Regions from separate parts of the Homo sapiens genome. Here region 2 is linked to region 1. Evidence: fine-mapped expression QTL. A gene starts in region 1. The other region holds a variant in brackets. All regions are shown on one strand. Distances are from middle to middle. Region 1 holds the start of SLC4A7 (solute carrier family 4 member 7). Region 2 has its middle 100 kb from the start of SLC4A7.

Region 1 (8,613 bases):
ACAAGAGTCTAATGTAACAAAATTCTCTAAGCTCTTAGAAGAAAACCTGTGTACTTCCCAGTCTCAATTACCAGGCAAAACAATTCATCAATCTAACTCAAATGTCCTACAGCTTTGTTTCATCTTGTATTGAGGCAGGGCTTCACTCTGTCACCCAGGCTGCAGTGCAATGGCATAATCACAGCTCACTGCAGCCTCAACCTCCCAGGCTCAAGTGATCCTCCTGCCTCGGCCTCCCAAGTAGCTGGGACTACAGGCTAGCACCAACACATATGGGTAATTATGTTTTGTAGAGACAGGGTCCCATTATGTTGCCCAGGCTGGTCTCAAACCCCCTAGGCTCAAGTGATCCTCCCACTTCAGCCTCCCAAAGTACAGGGGTTACAGGCATAAGCCACAGCACCTAGCCTTGTCCTACAGTTTCAGATTTGCTCTCTCCCTTTATTACAACTCCATGGATTGCGGCCCAGAGATACTTAGAATAAGGCAAAAGGGTAACTGAAACCCTGATACTATTCCTAGGGTGCCACATCAATACCTAGTATCAATACGTAACTGTGATTCCCCAAACAGAATGCCTACTTACAGACCCACAAAAAAAAACTTCCATTTGCCAATCACTACCGAATTCATACTGGGTTGTCCGGGTCTGTCATTTATTCTAATGACTATTTTTTTTTAATTTCTTACAGACTGATGAAATGTTTTAACTGGCACTCACAAATGGAAAGCAGAAATGTAAATGCCATCACTGTGTTCACACCATACGCCAAAATAAACTCAGCGAAGGCAGTATGCTGTCTACCTTGTTTGACTATATCCCCATTACCTGGCACCTATAGGATATTTAATAAATATGTGCAAAATGAATAAAATCATAACAAAATCATGGAAAAATATCATGGTCCCAAAATGTCAGTGGTATCAGAATTGTGTTATATCATGCACTGCTTAAAAGAAAGTAGATTACCTGCTAAAACTTAGAAACCTTCTAAACCATGCTATTTATAAAAGGATTTAACCTATACTGGAAAATAAGACTGACAACAACAACAAAAAAAGACTCACAAATCAATTCCAAGTGAGGCTTACAATTATGAGGCTTTATAGCAAAAGCAAAAGACAAGTTACATTTTTTCAAGATTAATGACTTTCCTCTATCCCAACACCCTGATCAGTGAAAATTAGAGAATTTTAGGAGCAGAAGCAACCATAGAGGCTAAACTATGAAACAGATGGGCTCCAATTTCAGAGTAATATAAACTGCCACCAATCTATTCAACATTTTTTTGCATAATTACAAATCTAAGATGGGATTTTATGAATATTAATTTGTTCTACTTTTTTGGCTATGCTGAGCAGTCTGCTGCGAGTTAGAGTTATGACTGATGAATATCATGATCTCTCACTTTTACGACTTTTATTTACCAAAACTGGGTGAGCGAAGATTTAATTTTATCAACGCCAATAGTTCCTCTTTCCTGTTTTCAAATCAGTTCAACCTACAGCTTTACTATTCTCCCATTCTATTCGTAGACTATATGCTAGTTTACTGTATTTGATTTCTATTATTGATTTATATATGTTAACAGTAGCCAAGCCTTATCTTCTCAAAGACTTAGGAGGTTTACCCTTCTAAAGTGCTCCCCTACCACGTCATTAACAGCAGTGTTTAATAATTCCTTTGTCATCTGTCTCCCAACTCAAATATCACTTCTATTAGGATAGAGTTGGGTAGGGTGCCATGGCTTACACCTGTAATCCCAGCACTCTGTGAGGCCGAGGTGGGTGGATCACCTGAGGTCAGGAGTTCGAGACCAGCCTAACCAACAGTGAAATCCCATCTCTACTAAAAATACAAAATTAGCCGAGTATGGTGGCACATGCCTGTAATCCCAGCTACTCGGGAGGCTGAGGCCGAAGAATCACTTGAACCCAGGAGGCAGAGGTTGCAGTGAGGCGAGATCAGGCCATTGCGCTCCAGCCTGGGTGACAGAGCGAAACTCCGTCTCAAAAATAAATAAATAAATATTAGGATGGAGTTGGTTCTGCCTTGTTGGCCACTACAGTAAATAGTGTAAATAATAGTTTAAATAGCATAAACACTAGTCTAAATAAGTGTTATTACAATGAATGAATGAATAACTTGGAGGGCAATGGCCTTATCACATGCTTTCTCTACTAGCTAGGCAGGCAATATTTGAGAACACACCATAGTTTCTATCCAGCTCCGTGAAAACTCGAATGCACTTTACTGCTCAATTGAAAATTTGCAAATAAATTTAAGAACAGACAACATCATACTTGAAATACACAGAGAAAGTACTATAAAACAGTTTATTCAAAGGCTACACAAAGAATTACAGAAGGCCAGGCGCGGTGGCTCACGCCTGTAATCCTAGCACTTTGGGAGGCCGAGGCGGGTGGATTGCCTGAGGTCAGGAGTTCCAGACCAGCCTGGACAACATGGCAAAACCCCGTCTCTACTAAAAATACAAAAAATTAGCTGGGCATAGTGGTGCGTGCCTGTAATTCCTGCTACTCCGGAGGCTGAGGCGGGAGAATCGGTTGAACCTGGGAGGAGGAGGTTGCAGTGAGCCGAGATCGCACCACTGCATTCCAGCCTGGGCGACAGAGCGAGACTCTGTCTCAAAATAATAATAATAATAATTACAGATTATTTAGGATGAGTTTCCAGTATTCCATTACCATCACTGTGAATTATCTTCCAATAACCACTGCTAAATGACTTCACTGTCTGGTGACTGAGTTTTCTTCTATGTTAGAGAACTTATATGAACGTACTGAACTAATGAATGACTACTTTCCATAACCTTAACTATAATCCTAAAAGTTAAAAGGGAAAGCCGGCAGGCAGTTTTAAAGACAACTCTTGAATAAAAACATAGGAGAAGTAATTTTCCTCTTAGTTGTGAAAGACCGGACAATTTTCCCTGCAACCTTCCCGCCTTTGCTGGTTGCATAGTAAAAATTAGAAGTAGGAAAATTTAGAATACTTCCATCTCCTTTGAGTCACGAACTTGGAAAGGAGAAAGAGACAACTGCGGGGACGCATGTGCTCTAAAGAAAGCAGGAAGTCCGCTTCTTGAGCATGGGCCGTTCACCCATCATCACAAATGGGAACACCGGCCTTAAGTCCATCCCCATTCTCTTCTAACCCTGAAATCAAAGCCAGTCTCAGTAGGAAACGCGATCTTGCTAGCTGAGTTAGAGAAGGAGCACCAGACAGCTCAGGACACCCTCCTCCTTCTACTTGGCCTGCGGCAGGAGGATACTCCCCGGGTCCCAGCCAGTGGAGAAGGCGGACCCGGCAGGCAACAGCGAAAGAGCCTTGGCCGGGAAGGAGCGCGGCCAGTCCACGCGGCCGGAGAACTCACCGAACAAAGCGCACCGCGGAGCGGGAGGGGACACTCGGAAAGAGGGGGAAAGATTCAACCAGCTCTTCACCACTGCCTGGGGCTAGAGACAGGTGGAGCCGCCGTCCTCCTTAGAAGGAGAAGAAAGATAGGTTTTCGAGGGCTAATCTGAAACTCCTGCGCCAAGGCAACCGGAACCGGGACCCCGCCTGGGGAGCGCGCTAAGAAACAGGGGAGGCGAGCGCTGAGGGAAGGGATGGATGGTCGGGGTCACAGGCGGCCTCTGCGGGGATGTCGGGGTCCCGCCTGAGCCGCGCAGAGGATGCCCGCGGCGCGCCGCCGGCCGCCCCGACTCGGGCCTCCCGAGCGCAGCCGCTGGCCCCCTCCCACCCGCGCCCCAGGCCGCCACACAAAGGGGATGGCGAGGCGCGCCGGCCGCCGGGAGGTGGAGGGGCGACGGGCCTGGGACGAGGTGGCCGAGCCGCGACGCCCGCCGCGCCCCCCGCCTTTGTCTGCCTCGCCCCGCGCCCTCCCCCTGCGGAGGAGCCCCACCGCCGCGGCGCCCTCACCCTGCTCGTTACCCGGGTGAGTAGCGGTCTCATCTGCTCGCCGGCCCCATCAGCCTCCATGGCCGGCCGGCCAGCCCGTGACGGCCGCTACGGTACTGCCCCGCGCGGTCTGCCTGCTTCTGCCGCTGCCCCTGCCGCCGCCGCCGAGCCCCCGGCGCGCGAGGACAAACGTGGGTGCGTCCGTGCGCGAGGTGTGCGCGCGTGGGGAGAGCCGGGCGCCGGGCGCGGGAGACGCGGGGCGTGCGTGTGCGCGCTGCGACTGCTGGGCTGGCTTTAGTAGGAGAGCGAGGCCGCGGCGTGGAACCTGAAGCTAGAACTGAGCGAACCGGCGGACCGAGCGGGAAGGAGGAGAGCCGCGTAGGAGGAGGGGTTCGGGGGCGGAGCCGCAAACCGTGACGAGCCCGGCGCCGGGGCCAGGCAAGACACGCCCCCCCGCCCCGCCTCCTCGGGTCACGCCCCCTGCCAGTCTGGCACCGCCAGCCTCCTCAGCGCGCCCGCGGGCCGCGCCGCTAGGCCACCGGGAGATGGGGCGGGAGGGAGGCGGGACGGACATTTGTCCCAGCCAATCGGCGGCTGGCGGACTTCCGCTCGCCTCCCCCGTGCCACCTCCTCAGGACGCACCGCCCCTCTTTGTATAAGCTTAATTGACCGAAGCTGAGCGTCTAACTAGTTTTTCAAGTCGGAAGCTCCCCTGACGTTCTCAATGGGGTGGGGGGTCACCACCTCCCTTGGCTCCTAACTACATTCTTTAGAGGCTGCAGGGAAGGAGGACGCCACCTCTGTCAAGGACGCCCAGGATAACCCTCCGAAGCAACTAACGAGTCTTCACGACTCCTGGAAGTTTCTTTTCTGTCAATCCAGTAGGCACGAACCCCAACTCAGGGACCGTGAAAGATGGGGTACACTTGACCAGGTGTCCTCCTGTGCTTGCTCGCCCACTGAGCACCACGACAGCTGCCACTTTTTTTTTTTTTTTTTTTTTTTTTGAGACAGAGTCTTGCACCAGCCCAGGTTGGAGTGCAATGGCATGATCTCGGCTCACTGCAACCTCCGCTGCCTGGGTTCAAGCTATTCTCCTGCCTCAGCCTCCTGAGTAGCTGGGACTACAGACGCGCGCCACCACGCCCGGCAACTTTTTGTATTTTTAGTAGAGACGGGGTTTCACCATGTTGGTTAGGCTGGTCTCGAACTCCTGAGCTAAGGTGATCCACCAGCCTCAGCCTCCCAAAGTGCTGGGATTACAGGCATGAGCCACCACACCCGGCCAGCTGCCACATTATTGAGTCCACCCTGTAGGCCGTCTCTCAAATATCCCTTCTGTAACGGGATGATTGTAATACCTGCCATGCAGGCTCATTGAAGGATTAAGGGGATTTATATTCATAAAAGTGCCTGGCACATAGCATGCTGATAATTTTCATTATTGTTAACAGGTTTCTCTTGAGTGTTTCATAAAGATGAGAAATTTGGCCGGGCGCGGTGGCTTACGCCTGTAATTACAGCAGTTTGGGAGGCCGAGGCGGGCGGATCACCTGAGATCAGGAGTTCGAGACCAGCCTGACCAACATGACGAAACCCCGTGTCTACTAAAAATACAAAAATTAGCCAGGCATGGTGGCAGGCACCTGTAATCCCAGCTACTCAGGAGGCTGAGGCAGGAGAATCGCTTGAACCCAGGAGGCAGAGGTTGCAGTGAGCTGAGATCACGCCACTGCACTCCAGCCTGGGTGACAGAGCTAGACCCTGTCTCAAAAAAATAAAAAATAAAATAAAAAAAGATAAGGAGAGGTTTAGTTGGGAAGAACTGAAGCCATGCAATGGAAGGATATATAAATACATCAGCGGATCCAGAGCTCACATCCTATTCATCTCCAACTGGGTATTAGTAAAGCTTTTTGTCAGCAATAGGTAGCTAGGTATGCTGGATGACTCATTCCTTCTTTGGGCCCTAGTCCCCTTTTGTCCTAAATTTCCCAGAGAGTTACTTCCAGTCCAGCACACATTGTTCACTTACTTGTACAAGAGCAGATGTGCCTCTATTAATAGCTACTATGTAAAGAGGCCTACAATTAGAGACTGTGACATTTGGCAAACATATTTCATTTCTAATCCTCTCAATACTGCAAAATATCTGCCGTCATCTTTTTCTTCGGCAAGGCAACTGAGCTGCAGACGCAGAGACGCAGATCTTTGTGAAGACCCTCACGGGCAAGACCATCACTCTTGACGTCAAGCCAAGTGACACCATTGAGAATGTCAAAGCCAAAATTCAAGACAAGGAGGTATCCCACCTGACCAGCAGCATCTGATACTTGCTGGCAAACAGCTGGAGGATGGCCGAACTCTCTCAGACTGCAACATCTGGAAAGAGTCCACCCTGCACCTGGTGCTGCGCCTGTAAGGTGGCATTATTGAGCCTTCCCTCTGCCAGCTCTCCCAGAAATACAACTGTGACAAGATGATCTGCCGCAAGTGCTATGCTTGCCTGCACCCCCGTGCTGTCAACTGCTGCAAGAGGTGTGACCACACCAACAACCTGTAACCCAAGAAGGTCAAGGCTCTTCCTTCCTCGAACGGCAGCCTCCCTGGAGCCTCAATAAAGTGTGTCTCTTTCGTTGACTGGAGCAGCAAAAACAAACAAACAAAAAAACAATACTACAAAATATGTTATAGCTCCATTTTACAGATGAGGAAGCTGAAGCCCATAGAAATACTGGTTTTGAGTTCTGGTGAGTGGAACTGCTCTTACTATTGGCACCATTCTTTTTTATTTATTTATTTTTGAGATGGAGTCTCACTCTGTTGCCCAGGCTGGAGTACAGTGGCACAATCTCGGCTCACTGCAACCTCCATCCTCCAGGTTCAAGCAATTCTCCTGCCTCAGCCTCCAGAGTAGCTGGGATTACAGGCGCCCGCCACCACACCTAGCTAATTTTTTGTATTTTTAGTAGAGATGGGGTTTCACCATGTTGGCCAGGCTGGTCTAGAACTCCTGACCTCCAGTGATCCACCTGCCTCGGCCTCCCAAAGTGCTGAGATTACAGGTGTGAGCCACCGCATCTGGCTATAACATTCTATATATTTTATGATTTATTATGCTTATTGTCTACACACACACACACACACACACACGCACAAATGTGAGCTCCATGTAAGCTTCATGTGTACAGCAAATTTGGTTTTTGGTTTTTGGTTTTTTCTCAGATATCCCTATGCCTACGTGAGTGTTTGGCCCCTGTAAACTCTCAGCACATGTGTTAAATGAGTAAATGTACAGGTGGGGCATACATCTGCTCTTCTTAAGATCTAAGAGCATCTTAGGTGACAGCTGAGCATGTGGCCATAGTAACAAGAACAAAGTAGGAGTCAAGAATCATGGTGCCAGAGTTGAAAGTGTTAAATAGTCAGCTTCAAGAAGGTCTTAAAAATGTATGCTTGGCAGACCTTGCTAAACAATGAATTTCTGTTCATCTATCTTGCAAGAAGAAAAAATTATTGGTTTATTTAATCCACAAATATTTTTTTAGTGACGTCTTTGTTGCCATGCACTTTTTCCACTCCTCATTTCATCCCAACTGCTAGAAGAGGAATGTAGCAAAGATCTGAATTATTAAATTTATCACTCAGTTGCCCACTTAATTCAACCTCAGCCAAAGTTCATTCAAGAAGATAATGTGTTAAAATTGCTTTTGTGCAACCAGAGATGGCTATAAAGTGTTCCAAGGTGCTGAAAGGTAAATTGTATTCTTGAATATTTTAAATATTCATCTGGGGCCAGGTGCAGTGGCTCATGCTTGTAATCCCAACACTTTGGGAGGCCAAGGCAAGTGGATCACCTGAGGTCAGGAGTTTGAGACCAGCCTGGCCAACACGGTGAAACCCTATATCTACTAAAAATACAAAAATTAGCTGGGCATGGTGGCAGGCACCTATAGTCACAGCTACTCAGGAGGCTGAGACAGGAGAATTGTTTGAACCCCGGAGGCCAAGGTTGCAGTGAGCCAAGATCACGCCATTGCACCCCAGCCTGGGGCACAGGTCCAGACTCCGTTTCAAAAAAAAAAAATTAATTTGAAATATGGCACAGGGAAACATTTGCTAAACAAAGGTAAATGTAAACCTAAATTCATCAGTAGCAATGAAGTGGTAGTACCTAAAGTTAATGAGTTTTAGCTGTATCCTAAATTCAGAATACTTCCTGAGTATCTGGAGCAGTAGATAATCCTAAAAACCCCTTGGCAAGATCCCCATCCTGAGGAGTGAACGGTCTTCCCAAGAACAATTCTCTATAGGCCAAGGTATAGTTTATAAAGACAGAGAGCAGCTTCTTTGGTATTTTGAAAAGTGTGAAACCATTCTTTTTTTTTTTTTTTTGAGGCGGAGTTTCACTCTTGCTGTCCAGGCTGGAGTGCAATGGTGCAATCTCGGCTCACTGCAACCTCTGCCTCCCTGGTTCAAGCAATCCTCCTGCCTCAACCTCCCAAGTAGCTAGGATTACAGGCACGTACCACCATGCCTGGCTAATTTTGTATTTTTTAGTAGAGACGGGGTTTCTCCATGTTGGTCAGGCTGGTCTCAAACTCCTGACAACATCAGGTGATCTGCCCACCTCAGCCTCCCAAAGTGCTGGGATTACAGGTGTGAGCCACCGCACCTGGCCACGTGAA
Region 2 (8,680 bases), 100 kb after region 1:
CCCGAGTAGCTGGGATTACAGGCATGATCTACCGCGCCAGGCCTAGTCTCTCTCTCTCTCTCTTTTTTTTCTTTTTTGAGATGGAGTTTCACTTTTGTCACCTAGGCTGGAGTACAGTGGCGGGATCTCAGCTCACTGCAACCTCTGCCTCCTGGGTTCAAGCAATTCTCCTGCCACAGCCTCCCGAGTAGCTGGGATTACAGGCACGTGCCACCATGCCCGGCTAATTTTTGTATTTTTAGTAGAGATGTGGTTTCACCATGTTGGTTAGGCTGGTCTTGAACTCCTGACCTCAGGTGATTCGTCCACCTTGGCCTCCAAAGTGCTGGAATTACAGACATGAGCCACCATGCCCAGCCTCGTCTCTCTTTTGAAAAACAAAATTAATGGTATGTACCACAAAAGGTAGATGTCAGGAATAAATGAAATTGTGAATGTAAAACACCTTGCATGATGCTTGGCATGCAGTAAGTTCTTAATGGGTGGTAGGCTGCTGGCAGAACATGGTGTATATGGTGAGGAGAGGGGTACAAACTGGGAAGTAAGAGACTGGAATTCTCATTCCAGGACAGCTGCTTTCTGTATAACTTTGGGAAAATACCTTTATCCCTTTGAACTTTGCTTTTCTTATCTACAAAGCAATGGCATTGGATGGCACCTGGGATCTCCACACTGTTTCCTGTAAAAACAATTGGCTTTGCAAATTTCCTCAGGGAATCCCCTAGGAAGAGGCTGCGTCAAACCAAGCAGACTCTGGTCCCTGTCTCTGTTTCAAACAGAGAAGCTCCAATTCCATTTGTTCGACATGTTGGGCTTTCAGTAGAGTGCTGGTTTAAAGAAAAGGTATTGCTGCGGTTTAAAAAAAAAAAAATTGAATATCAGTGTACTCCAAGATTTAAGTCTTCCCCACTCTAATACTCTAAGATTCTGTGAAGGTCTGAGCAATGATGGGTTAGTCCACTAAGTCATGTTGGGAAAGGCTATAGCTTTCCTCCTCCACTTGACCAGTTTGAAAGAAGCCAAGGGAGTGACCTGCAAGTCCCAAGACTGCCCGGGCATAAAAGTACTTAGGTGGGGCAGAATCATGACTATGAATAAGAACTCAAAATGCAACCAGCAGGTACAGTCCCTGGCACTAGAACTCAGGAAAAGGGCAAGTGCACACTGTTCTGGTTGGAAAATGTGTAAGCCAAGTACGTGACTGAACAGGCTCTTTCTAACCAGTAAGCTAAGGAAAAGAAAGCAGCCGGATTTGCAGGCTTATAGATCTGTCACTGAGGAGAAAGTAACTGGCTCCTGGTCAAGTCATCAGCATTCCAATATGGCTTTCTACCATAGGATGTGTGGCCTTATAACACACAAATGTCCCAGGAAGAGAGTGTGGCCAAAGGCTACATATAGTGCTGGTGTTATGAATTTCATTTACTCAGCCCACATATAGTGCCAAATGTGCTAGGCACTGTTTTAGATGTTGGGGATAGAGACAAATCCCTATATTCTACATTTCAGTCTGGTAGACAGACATAAATCTTTTTTTTTTTTTTTTTTTTTGAGATGGAGTCTCGCTCTGTTGCCCAGGCTGGAGTGCAGTGGTGTGATCTCGGCTCACTGCAGCCTCTGCCTCCTGGGTTCAAGTGATTCTCCTGCCTCAGCCTCCTGAGTAGCTGAGATTATAGGCACGTGCCACCATGTCCAGCTAATTTTTGTATTTTTAGTAGAGACGGGGTTTCACCATGTTGATCAGGCTGGTCTTGAACCCCTGACCTCGTGATCTGCCCGCCTCAGCCTCCCAAAGTGCTGGGATTACAGGCGTGAGCCACTGTGCCCAGCCTTTTTTTTTTTTTTTTTTTTTGAGATAGTGTCTTGCTCTGTCATCCAGGCTGGAGTACTGTGGCATGATAGCTCAATGGAACCTCCGCCTCCTGGGTTCAAGTGATTCTCCTGCCTCGGCCTCCCAAGTAGCTGGGATTACAGGTGCCCACCACCACACATTTTTAGTAGAGACTGGGTCTTATCATGTTGGCCAGGCTGGTCTCGACCTCCTGACCTCAGGTGATCTGCCCGCCTCGGCCTCCCAAAGTGCTGGGATTACAGGCGTGAGCCACCGTGCCAGGATGGTAGTGGTTTATTTTTATTTTTTTTTTAGTTGTTTTTTTCTTTTTTCTTTTTTTGTAGATGTGGGGACCAGTGCAACAGGGTGTTGCAGTAGGGGAGAGAGATTGGACTCAAATTCCTGTTGTTTAAACTACAACAGTAGCAGTGTGAGTAGTAAGCCATCAAATTCTGGATATATGTTTAAGATAGTGCAAATCAGCCCAACTGAACCACCAGGACATTGCCTCGTTGTTCTGTTCTTTTTTTTTTTTTTTTCCTGATTTTAATATTCATTATAAAGCTCTAGTAAGCAGGACAATGTGTTAATGGTATAAAAAAGCAGACAAGTTGGCCTGGCGTGGTGGCTTACGCCTCTAATCCCAGCACTTTGGGAGGCCGAGGAGGGTGGATCACGAGGTCAGGAGATCGAGACCAACCTGGCCAACATAGTGAAACCCCATTTCTACTAAAAATACAAAAATTAGCCATGTGGTGGTGTGTACCTGTAATGCCAGCTACTAAGGAGGCTGAGGCAGGAGAATCACTTGAACCTGGGAGGCGGAGGTTACAGTGAGCCGAGATTGCACCACTGTACTCCAGCCTGGGCGACAGAGTAAGACTTCGTCTCAAAAAAAGCAAAACAAAACAAAACAAAACAAAACAAAACAAAAATACCCCCCAAAACCAAAAAACAGACAAGTCAATGAAATAGAAATGAATCCAGAAAGAGACCCACATATTTATATTGACAACTAGTTTTTATTTGTTTAGTTTTTTTGTTTGTTTTTTGAGAACCCTGGATAGAGTGCAGTGGTGTGTACATGGCTCACTGCAGCCTTAACTGTCTAGGCTCAAAGCAATCCTCCCACCTCAGCCTCCTGTGCAGGTGGGGCTACAGGCACATGCCACCATGTCCAGCTATTTTTTTTTTTTTTTTGTATTTTTGTAGAGATGGGTTTTCACCATGTTGACCAGGGGGTCTCTAACTCCTGGGCTCCAGTAATCCACCCACCTTAGCCCCCCAAAAGCTAGGATTACAGACATGAACCACTGCTCCTGGCCTGATAACTGTTTGTTTATTTTTGTTTTGTTTTGTTTTGAGATGAAGTCTTGCTTTGTTACCCAGGCTGTAGTCCAGTGGTGTAATCTCAGCTCACTGCAACCTCTGCCTCTGAGGTTGAAGCGATTCTCCTGCCTCAGCCTCCAGAGTAGCTGAGTTTACAGGCGTGAGCCACCACGCCTGGCTAATTTTTTGTATTTTTGGTAGAGACGGGGTTTCATCATGTTGGCCAGGTTGGTCTTGAACTCCTGACCTCAGGTGATCCGCCTGCCTCGGCCTCCCAAAATGCTGGGATTACAGGCATAAGCCACCACGCCCAGTCCTGACAACTGTTTTTGACAAAGGCACAAATGCAATTCAGTGGACAAATAGTCTTTTTAACAAATGGTGCTAGAACAATTAGAAATTCATACGCAACAGAAAGAATGTCAATCCATTCTTGCACCATATGAAAATAATGATCTAAATATGTATTATCCCAGCCTGGCCAACATGGTGAAACTCCATCTCTACAAAAAAAAAAAAAAAATAATAGCCAGGCGTGGTGGTGGGCACCTATCATCCTAGCTACTTGGGAGGCTGAGGCAGGACAATCACTTGAACCCGGGAGGCGAAAGTTGCAGTGAGCTGAGATTGTGCCACTGTACTCCAGCATGGGCAACAGAGCGAGACTTTGTCTCAAAAAAAAAAAAAACAATTATTACAGACTTAAATATATTATCTAAAGTGATTAATCTTCTAAAAGAAAATATGGTAGAAAATCTTTGTGATCTTGGGTTAAGCAGAAATTTATTAGATATTATACAATACTAAAAAGCATAATTCCTCAAAGAACAAACAGATTAAATAGACTTAATGAAAATTATAAACTCCTTTTTTTTTTTTTTGAGACAGAGTCTCGCTCTGTCACCCAGGCTGGAGTGCAATGGCACAATCTCTGCTCACTGCAGGTTCTGCCTCCCAGGCTCAAGTGATTCTTCTGCCACAGCCTCCCGAATAGCTGGGATTACAGACGTGCGCCATCACGCCCAGCTAATTTTTGTATTTTTAGTAGAGATGGGGTTTCACCATATTGGCCAGGCAGGTCTCAAACTCCTGGCCTCAGGTGATCTGCGTGCCTTGGCCTCCCAAAGTGCTGGGATTACAGATGTGAGCTGCCACACCGGTAAACTTCTCCTTTTTGAAAGACACTCTTAAAATAAAGAAAATCAGCCAGGCATGGTGGCTCACACCTGTAATCCCAGCACTTTGGGAGGCCGAGGCAGGCAGACCACTTGAGGTCAGGAGTTCAAGACCAGCCCGGCCAACATGGTGAAATGCCGTCTCTACTAAAGATACAAAAATTGGCCAGGAGTGTTGGCGGGTGGCTGCCATCCCAGCTACTCGGGAGGCTGAGGCAGGAGAATCACCTGAACCTGGGAGGCAGAGGTTGCAGTGAGCTGAGATTGGGCCACTGCACTCCAGCCTGGGTGGAAAAAAAAAAAAAAGAAAAGAAAATATAACCCATAGAATGGAAGAAAGGGTAATCTGATAAAAGATTTATATCTAGATATATTTATATCTAGAATACACATTTATACTCAGAATACATAATTTGGATTAAAACAATCCATTTTTGTAAGTGGGCAAAATGCTTTATTTTATTTTATTTTTTTGAGACAGAGTCTCACTTTGTCACACAGGCTGGAGTGTAGTGGCTCGATCTCGGCTCACTGCAACTTCTTCCTCCTGGGCTAAACTGATCCTCCCACCTCAGCCTCCCTAGTAGCTGGGACTACAGGTGCATACCACCACCAAGTCCAGCTAATTTTTGTATTTTGAGTAGAGATAGAGCTTTGCCATGTTAGCCAGGCCTGTCTCAAACTCCTGACCTTAAGTGATCCGCCCGCCTCGGCCTCCCAAAGTTCTGGGATTACAGGCATGAGTCGCTGTGCCTGGCTTTATTTTATTTTTAATTAACATGGAATAATGTACATATTTATAGGTACGACGTGACATTTTGATATCTGTATACAATGTGTAATGATTAAATCAGGTTCATTAGTGTATCTATTACTTCAAAACATTTATCATTTCTTTGTTTTG[G/A]AAACATTCAAAATCCACAGGGTGCCATACCTCATGCTGGTAATCCCAGCGACAGAACGAAGCTCTATGTCAAAAAAAGAGAAACATGCAAAATCTTCTCTTTTAGCTATTTGAAAATATACAATAAGTTATTGTTAACTATTGTCACCCTATAGTTCTATAGAGCACTAGAGCTTACTCTTCCTATCTATCTGTCCTTTTGTATTCCGTATCCAATCTCTATCTCCCATCCCCCACCCTTCCTAGCCCATAGTAACCACAATTCTACTCTATTTCTGTGAGCTCAACTTTTTAGCTCCCACATATGAGTGAGAACATTAGAATTCCATTGCTGTTACTGCATGCTTTTTCTCTATTCTATCTCTTTGCTCCTCCCAGGAGAGGAGATTTCCTCCTGAGCAAAGGAGGTGTGTGGGTTGGGAAGGGAAAGCAAAGTAAAGGGATAGAAAACAAAAAAGAAGATATAAATGCAGCAAAAAGTAAAAACAGAAGAGCCAAAGAATGAACACTAACAGGAGAAGAAAAGCAAGAATGAGAAAGATAGGAATGCTATTCATCTTTCTGGCTTTCTCATCTCTTTTCTTCTCTGTTGATAACATAAAAGTGTGAAGAGGCTGATTTCTTTTTCAGCAAAAGCCTTCATGGAAAACACTGGTGACTGTTTTGTTTTCAATGGCTATATGCACAATGCAAGGTTGAAGAAGGAGAAATAAATTTTCTGTAAAGAAAAACAAAAATCAGTCCTGGAGTGGGAGGTGCATGCTGAGAGATGTAAATTCAATTAATCATCACTTTTGATAAAATCCAAGTCTTCTTGCACAATAATGGGTGCTGGCCTAGAATGTTACTTCCTCTTCTGTCTTCGAGGAGAGAAAAATCTGATTTCCAAAGAAAGAGAAATTCATCATCTCTCCTGGGTCACCTTCAACAACCACAGAGCTGGTTTTCTGAAGTGATGTGTCATAAAGTCACAGTACCCTTGAAGGTAACCGGAAATCATTGTTTTCACAGGGAAAAAGGCAACCGGAAGTTACAACTTCCACTGGAGAATATAATCATATCCTCTTGCCAATGTGGCTGGAACATTCCCTGACCACTGTAGCTTTTTGATACTGTCAGTGAAGGAAATAGTGATTATAAATCTTGATGAAAGATTACAGGAGTCATTTCAGCCTTAGAGAATTGCAATATGTTCAAGTGTTTAACATAATCTTAAAATGTAATAGGAACTGTTGTCTAATTTAATCATCAGTCTTTAGCTGTCAACACAGATGCATTAAGTTGGTAAATGGCAAAGGGAAAAATAAAGAAGTGGTTGTGCACAGACGAAAGGATACTTTCATTTCCCTTAGAGCTTGGTTTAGTCAACAGTTCCAAACAGTCACACAGCAGTCTGTTTGTATGAAATTTTGCCAGTGGGAATTAAGCTGAAAAAGAGTATTTTCCCTTCAGAACTTACGAGTTTCCAACTGGGACATTTTGCATAATAGATTCACTTTTCTATTGTGAACATGTGATCTACTTATGAAATGCTTCAACAAATGAAAGCAACAACAGAAAAGGCAGGACACATCCAGTATTATCAAGCTTCAATTGCTCTAAAAATTTTTCTGCAAACTCTCCCTCTTTGTTCCTTACTCTCCTCATAGCCTTCCTCTTTTCTGTCCCACCAAACCCCAAACTAACAAGTAGCAGAGGCATTTTGACGTTGAGCCATAAAAAATAATCACTATGACACACATGGTTCCAGGCCTGCTTTCACCTTCCATCAAAGCTTTGTCTCAACAACAGCTCTTTTCCAGCCTGGAATCTTGCCTTAAATTTTCGTGTCTTTTCCTCCCCAGAAGGACAGGATGTTAATGAATCACGGTCTACTAGGAAAAGCTTTTACCTAGGCTGAGGAATGGGCTTTCAAAGAAAAACCAATAATCTCCATCAAGTCCTGGAAGCAAACTAACATTGGGTCTCCCCTCACCATTCTAACAAAGCTGTGCTCTGTCTTCATTGCTCTCTTTCTCTCTTTCTTTCTCTAATACACATGTACTCATGCACACATACCTTGTCTTTTGAGTGAAAGTCTCTCTCTTTGTGACACACAAACACACATCCACACCCAAACACCGAAACACATACCCATTGTCTATTGAGAGAAAGCCTTTGGGCTTTATTGATAATTTTGACTCTGGAAATTAAGTAACTGTATCATTTTGGCAGGGACACTCGTGGGAGTTGAAGGTCAATATGCAGCTGGCTGCATCTTACAAATTGTTTCAGTAATTTTTGTTATCTCTTCCTGGAGCAGAATCTAGCTGAATACATTAGATGTAAGAACAAAGCCCAGCAGCCACAGAATTTGAATAATCACTTCCGGGGTAAACCACTCATGTCTCAGAAACCAGTTGGTGATAGACAAGATATGGAAGCCATGGAAAACCCATAAATCATTGACCAATGATGCCCGAAGAAAGGGCTTGGGATAAAATGTCAGCATGGGAAGAATAGAGCCATTTATACCATCTTTAATTACACTACAACTTAAATTATATTCAATGACATTACTTCATCTAGAGAGAAATACTAGATTCCCACAGATTTTGCTGTTTTTGAAAATCCACACCTGGCTGGGCGTGGTGGCTCACACCTGTAATCCCAGCACTTTTGGAGGCCAAGGTGGGCAAATCACTTGAGGTCAGGAGTTTGAGACTAACCTGGCCAACATGGCGAAACCCCATCTCTACTAAAAATACAAAAAAAATTTAGCTGGGCATGGTGGTGCACGCCTGTAATCCCAGCTACTTGAGATGCTGAGGAAGAAGAATCACTTGAACCCTGGGAGGCAGAGGTTGCAGAGAGCTGAGATCACGCCATTGTACTCCAGCCTAGGTGACAAGAGTGAAATTCTGTCTCAAAAGAAAATAAGAAAATAAAAAAGAGCCAGGCACAGTGGCTCACGCCTGCAATCCCAGCACTTTGGGAGGCCGAGGCAGGCAGATCACGAGGTCAGGAGTTCAAGACCAGCCTGGACAACATGGTGAAACCCCATCTCTAATAAAAATACAAAAATTAGCCAGGCATGGTGGTGAATGCCTGTAATCTCAGCTACTTGGGAGGCTGAGGCAGGAGAATTGCTTGAACCTAGTAGGCGGAGGTTGCAGTGAGCTGAGATTGTGCAATTGCACTCCAGCCTGGGCAACAAGAGCAAGACTCCACCTCAAAAAAAAAAAAAAAAAAAAAAAGAAATAATGAAATACTTGAATCAGTAGAAACATTTATATTTCCCCCAACATCTTTGTGGCTCAAAAGAAGTAGCTATTCTAGGCTTTTCATTGGGCTATGCAAAATTGTATGTGTGTGTGTGTTTATATATATAAAAAATACAGTTTTATGTATGTATATATAATAACATATATAGTATATGATATTATGTATTATACATTAATA

The links. PIP is the estimated chance that this variant, and not a neighbour inherited with it, causes the effect. A credible set is the group of variants that fine-mapping cannot tell apart.
Region 2: its variant is the best candidate, but not a certain one, in a credible set for the expression of SLC4A7 in whole blood (TOPMed, PIP 0.84).

What each region holds. Positions count from the first base shown.
Region 1 is chr3:27,480,121-27,488,733 of GRCh38, forward strand. SLC4A7 (solute carrier family 4 member 7) reads right to left here and starts at 4,264. Exons shown (of 26, transcript NM_001321103.2): 1 at 3,947-4,264. The coding sequence starts at 4,006. It also overlaps the pseudogene UBA52P4. RefSeq lists enhancers at 3,003-3,062, 3,223-3,432, 3,463-3,522, 3,538-4,314, 4,793-4,922 and silencers at 3,693-3,762, 3,793-4,152, 4,183-4,662.
Region 2 is chr3:27,584,460-27,593,139 of GRCh38, forward strand. No RefSeq gene overlaps it. Among named protein-coding and RNA genes, the nearest start is that of SLC4A7, 100 kb to the left of the region's middle. The variant G/A (reference allele first, on the strand shown) is at 5,240.